Regions from separate parts of the Homo sapiens genome. Here region 2 is linked to region 1. Evidence: fine-mapped expression QTL. Tissue or cell type: whole blood. Region 1 holds a variant in brackets; the other region holds the start of a gene. All regions are shown on one strand. Distances are between the middles of the regions.

Region 1 (2,761 bases):
TTAATTCCTAGCCCCTTTTGAGGACAAATGCCAAATGCCTCTGAGGATTATGTTGGCCAAGGATTTTTTACCAGAAACATCTTCACACATAAAATGTGAGGGTGGGGGCGATACATTCAGACTATTAAGGCTTCAGCTGGGCAGCTGTCTCCATCACCGCCAGGGCCTCTGGGGCTGTGGCGTCCACTTATGGGGCAGAGTGGAGCTGGGGTAGGTGAACCAAAATCTCCCTTGTAGGGTGCACTGGTGACAAGGAGCCTGAACCATGGACCCCACCTTCCTAAGCTTAGATCAAAGCAGGCAGCCTCTCCAAGACGCTCACGGACAGGCTCCCCACATGCAGAGACTGATGGCTGCCTTGGGCTCCCTAGACAGAGCAAGATCTGCAGTGATGACTCACAAGGACCCCAAGTCCCTCCTCCTTCTTCCTCCTCTACTCTTCACCTTCTCCCCGTCTCTCCTCTATGTCTGGGCCCACAGCCTCCTAGGTGACAACTGCCTATGATGGGCATGAGTTCTGAGAACAAACCCTGGGTCCCAAGTATCTGCCTCCTCTCGCAGCACATCTCATTCCTCAAATCGTAGTATGGATATTACCACTTCAAGAAACCCCTGCTACCATGCAAATTCCTGAAGCCATTCATTTTTAACACGCAGACGCAAATTAACTTCGCCGAGACAGGCAGCAGCAGAAGGCTCAGGGAGGAGGTCTGGAAAGGCTACTGACGCAGGGACTGGGCTGCTGGAATGTGAGGGAGAAGACTGACAAGGGGGTGATGGGGAAGGGTGGCCACTGAAGATCAGGCGCCTCTCAGGACCAGCCATCCACACGTCAGATCTGTACACAGAGCTGCCAGATTCTGCTCTCCCCAGGACAGAGCCTCATGATGTGGGCTTAAACATATCAGTAGAATGAATAATTCTGGACACATTGGCTCAAGAGTCAGAAAACCCCAGACGTGACTTCCAGCTCTGCTACTAGCAGCATACAGAAACCAAGGGGATCAAGGTCCCTAGTCCTCTAAAAGTCCTTGAGTCCTACTCTGCTGAACCTAACTGGTCAAGAACTAAGGACCTGATCAGCAAGGTTTGTGAGCATCAGTTGGCAAGTTCAAGGCCACTGCTTCCACTAGCAGAGAGGTGGTTGAGGTTCCTCCCAGTCACCACAGAGAAGATT[T/C]AACAAGTAAAAACCTGCAAACTCTTTATTAAATTCTCCCATTTCATCTGTACAGAAAAAAATGCACATTATGTTCAGAACATATCTCAGTAACATCTCAAAATTACACAGCATGAACATGTAAAAACAAGGGACCACCACGATTTTATACATAGAAAGGAAACCCATTTACAAAAGAGGCTTGTTAATTGTATTTTTTTCTTTCTTTCAAAAACAAAACAAAACAAAAAAAGTGAAAAGCCTAAGATCTCACACAGCATTTGCTGTACAGACTGTTTTCCGGATGGACTGGTTTGGGAACACTGTGCTGGGGGAAGCTGCCCAGGAAGCGCTCCCGCTGCCGGCTTTCCGGAGGTCTCTGCCCAGTGCACTGCAGGGGGACCTGGAGGGCCCATTTCTACCACCCTAGCATGTCTGACAGAAAGCCCTGCTGGGCTCTGGGGTCCAGATGTCAACTCTACATTGGAGGAGGCAAAACACAATCTAGAGGCACTGTCTGAACTTTCCCCTGGCCCAGGGAGATTTCTCCACTGCACACAGCACAGTGTCCTATACATGTGTCCTGGTGGAGCAGAGGGAGCGGGAGAGGACCACGGGTCAGGATCCTGTCACCACCAGCCTGAGCAGACAGTCCCATCTTTGTGATCCAGGTGACAAATAATCAGTCCCTGGTCCCCACAATGACCTCACCAGATGGCTTTGGGGAGCTCTTCACCCTAAAGATTCGGTCTGGTTTGCTAATGACTTATCTATTATCTGAAGTCTGTGGAGGAAGGACCAAGAAGGGGTGCAGTTAGAGGGATGAGCAACCAAAGACCAATGGGAGGGAAGGCAGGCAAGAACCTCAGACCCGGCCCCACGCCCTCTAGGAACCAAAGTCTAGTGGAGAGGAGGCGAGTGGGGAGGAAGGAAGTGTCCCTCAAGGCCTGAGAGAGACCCACAGCACCAGATGCTGCATTTTACAAAACCACTTAGGTGCTGCCCAAATGGTGAGAAATAAAAGGAAGCATTCTGGCCTTTCAGGTTTTTCAAACTCACAAGATGTTGAAATACAAGTAAATATACCAAAATGCACATAATTGAGGCCAAGGTGGGTGGACCACATGTGGTCAGGAGTTCGAAACCAGCGTGGCCAACATGATGAAATCCTGTCTCTACTAAAAATAAGAAAAAATTATCCAGGCATGGTGGTGCATGCCCGTAATCCCAACTACTTGGGAGGCTGAGGCAGGAGAACTGCTTGAACCTAGGAGGCAGAAGTTGCAGTGAGCCGAGATTGCGCCACTGCACTCCAGCCTGGGCAACGAGTGAAACTGTGTCTCAAAAGAAAAAAAAAAAAAAGGCCAGGCCGGGCGTGGTGGCTCACGCCTGTAATGCACTTTGGAAGGCCGAAGTGCACTTTGGCCGAAGTGGGCCACTTTGCGGCCACTTTGGAAGGCCGAAGTGGGCACATCATGAGGTCAGGAGATGGAGACCATCCTGGACAACACGGTGAAACCCCGTCTCTACTAAAAATACAAAAATTAGCTGGGTGTGGTGGTGCATGCCTGTAATCCCAGCTACTCCGGAGGCTGAGGCAGGACA
Region 2 (2,630 bases), 160 kb after region 1:
AGTATCAAGTGGTAGCTTCATTCTATTTGTCCACCTTTAGGGCTAATTTTATATACCTACACCTCTGGAAAAAGTTACTACTGTCAGATTTGCTCCCAAACTTTGAGAATTGTCATTATGGTCTGCAGCATTAAACCTAGATTATAAATTATCAATGTCACTTGATTATAAATTATCAATGTCACTCAACTGAATCACACCAAGCAACGACAAATGTAGATTTCATTAAGAGATACTGTTAAAATCACATTCAGACCTCAGAAAGGCAAGATCCCATAACCCAGTCACAAACACAGCTTCAAACGCTTCCCCAACTTTTCAAGCTTTGGGGCGCCAAGTCACTGGGAGTTAACAGCTTAAACATGGGGTTCAATACAACTGACCAAAGGAAGTGAAGAAAACAAAGCATACATTAATTTCAGCACCAAAAATATGGATTTGCGAATTACATCTACTGCTAATAAACAGATCATTCTTTACAGCCTAAGTACGCCAGGCATTTTTTTATGTTTAAATGGCTTGCCACAAATTGTCCTAGTCGAAACTGATGGCAAAATCCTAAACTGATCTTCGGCGAGGAGACACTCTGCATAGAGCATCACACAAAAGACAGGAGCGAACAGACACGCTCTGGGCCTCGGCGGATTGCGGCCAGGAGCCCAGGTTTTCGTCCCAGACCCCGGCAACAGGGAGGGAAATAAGGGCGGGGGAAAGAAGGAGTGGGAGTGGTATCCTTTTCCCTGAAAGCGCCTGGGAGTGAGGAGCAAAGAGGGAAGGAGCGAGTGCAGCACAGAGGAAGCAAGGAAAGCAGCCGACCGGCGTCAGCGGCTTCCAAGGCCGGCAACACCCTCGGGCCCGCACCAGGCCTGGCCCTCCCGGCTTCGTCCCACCTCCTCACCTCCCTCACATCCTGCAGGCACTCGAGCACCGCCAGGTTGTTGCTCCAGGTGTGCTTAGGGCACACGCGGGTCACGTCCTCCCTGCAGGACTCTTCCTCCGCCAGCTTCCAGCCCCCACCAGCCCCCGCTCCTCCCCGCCGGGCCGGAGGCCCACCCGCCGGGAAAGGCGGCTGCGGCGGCTGAGGCTGCTGTTGCTGTTGCTGCTGCTGCTGTTGCTGCTGAAGCTGCGATGACTGAGGCAGCTGGGGCAGCTGCTGACCCGCCGGGCCGCCGCCTCCGGCCTGCCCTACGAAGGACACAAAGTTGGCCCCGGGACCCTGGCCCTGGCTGTGGACGCCCTGGCCGGGGAGTTTCTCGGCCCCGGCCGCGAATAGCAGCAGCAGATGCAGCGCCGCCGACAAGCGGAACATCCTCCGTACACGTCCACACGCCGCCATCTTGAGTCCGCGGCGAGCTCGACGCACTCGCCGGCGCCGCGTATTTAAATGAGGGGGTGGAGACGCTGGGCGTGGCAGCGTGGCCCTGCCGAGCCCCGCCCCGCCGGCGCCGACCCGCGAACCCAGAGTGGGGCGAAGGAGGAGGCCGTGCTGGAAACCGCACACACCCTGGACCGGCGGGCGGGAGAGCGGCGCTCCTTACCCGGGGGGGTTGCTGGGGTTTCTTAAAAAGCCCGGGCAGGGCGGCCTACTCTAATTCCATTTGCTGTCACAAAAAAAAAAATCAAGGGAATTGGGGTTGCCACAACCAAAATGGCCGGTAGAATATGTCGCCGGTTCAATGACTTGGAAAACAAAAACTTTATATGTAGAGGTGAACTTTGCACAACCAGGTGTATTACGGAATCGGAAAGCCTCTCCTTGTATCGCTCCCTCCTTCCTTCCTTCCTTCCATCTGCCTCAGAAGTCTTTCTTAGCCAAAGAGAGAGACAGCATTGAATAGGGTTAAGAGCATAAGTTCTGGGGTAAGAAAAAAAATTAAGGTTATAATCCTTGCTCTGGCAGGGTACGCAAGAGCTCAAATGTAAAGTACCATTGGCAAGATTCGAAATAATAATTTAAGTGCCTGGCCCACAACACTGAACTCAAAAAGTCACAGCCAGTATTGTTAATAAACTGGGAAGCCGTTTATGCATGAATCCTGATTTTAAGCCAGCATTTAGATTCATGTTTAAAGGATGAAAAAATAATAATAAAACACATCTTTGAGGACTCGGGTTAAGTCTGTGTGTCGGTAACTGTTCTCATTGACCTGCATGCAACACCGCAGGCACCCCACACTAGCATCCCCTCCCTGTCCTTAGGAGAGAGGATATGTTCCCAAAGCCTCTTCACATCCGCTGTGTAATCTGAGCCATGCATCAGGCCTGCGTTAGGTTCTCATTTAACTGAAGAATGGCACAGAGATGTTAACAGTTCTGCGTGGAGGGATTAAATGAGCTGCCCAAGAGGAACTCTGCCATCCTGTAGACAGCTAGGCTAGCCACCAGAATCCCTGGGGCTTCCCACCACCCTGGCGCACTTTCATCCCACTCTGTCCATGCACATGTTGGGGAATGAGGGCAGTTTGGGTTGTGTAATCTCCACTGGTCATTGTGTCCAAAAATGCGAATTACATCTACTGTAGTAAACAGACAGCTTCTGCTGTCCTGACCCGCAAATGAGCAGTCAAGACCAAGTTAGACATAACTAGAACCTGAAAAGTCAGGAGCTCAGGGAACCCAAAAGGAGCTCC

Evidence for each region. PIP is the estimated chance that this variant, and not a neighbour inherited with it, causes the effect.
Region 2: it holds the start of GLG1, and the variant in region 1 is fine-mapped to the expression of GLG1 in whole blood (INTERVAL, PIP above 0.99). The same link has a PIP of 0.9 or more in NK cells and lung.

The regions. Positions count from the first base shown.
Region 1 is chr16:74,446,252-74,449,012 of GRCh38, forward strand. GLG1 (golgi glycoprotein 1) reads right to left here. Exons shown (of 26, transcript NM_001145667.2): 26 at 1,189-2,761. Among named protein-coding and RNA genes, the nearest start is that of CLEC18B, 26 kb to the left of the region's middle. The variant T/C (reference allele first, on the strand shown) is at 1,178.
Region 2 is chr16:74,605,759-74,608,388 of GRCh38, forward strand. GLG1 (golgi glycoprotein 1) reads right to left here and starts at 1,356. Exons shown (of 26, transcript NM_001145667.2): 1 at 899-1,356. The coding sequence starts at 1,336. RefSeq lists silencers at 927-1,106, 1,337-1,526.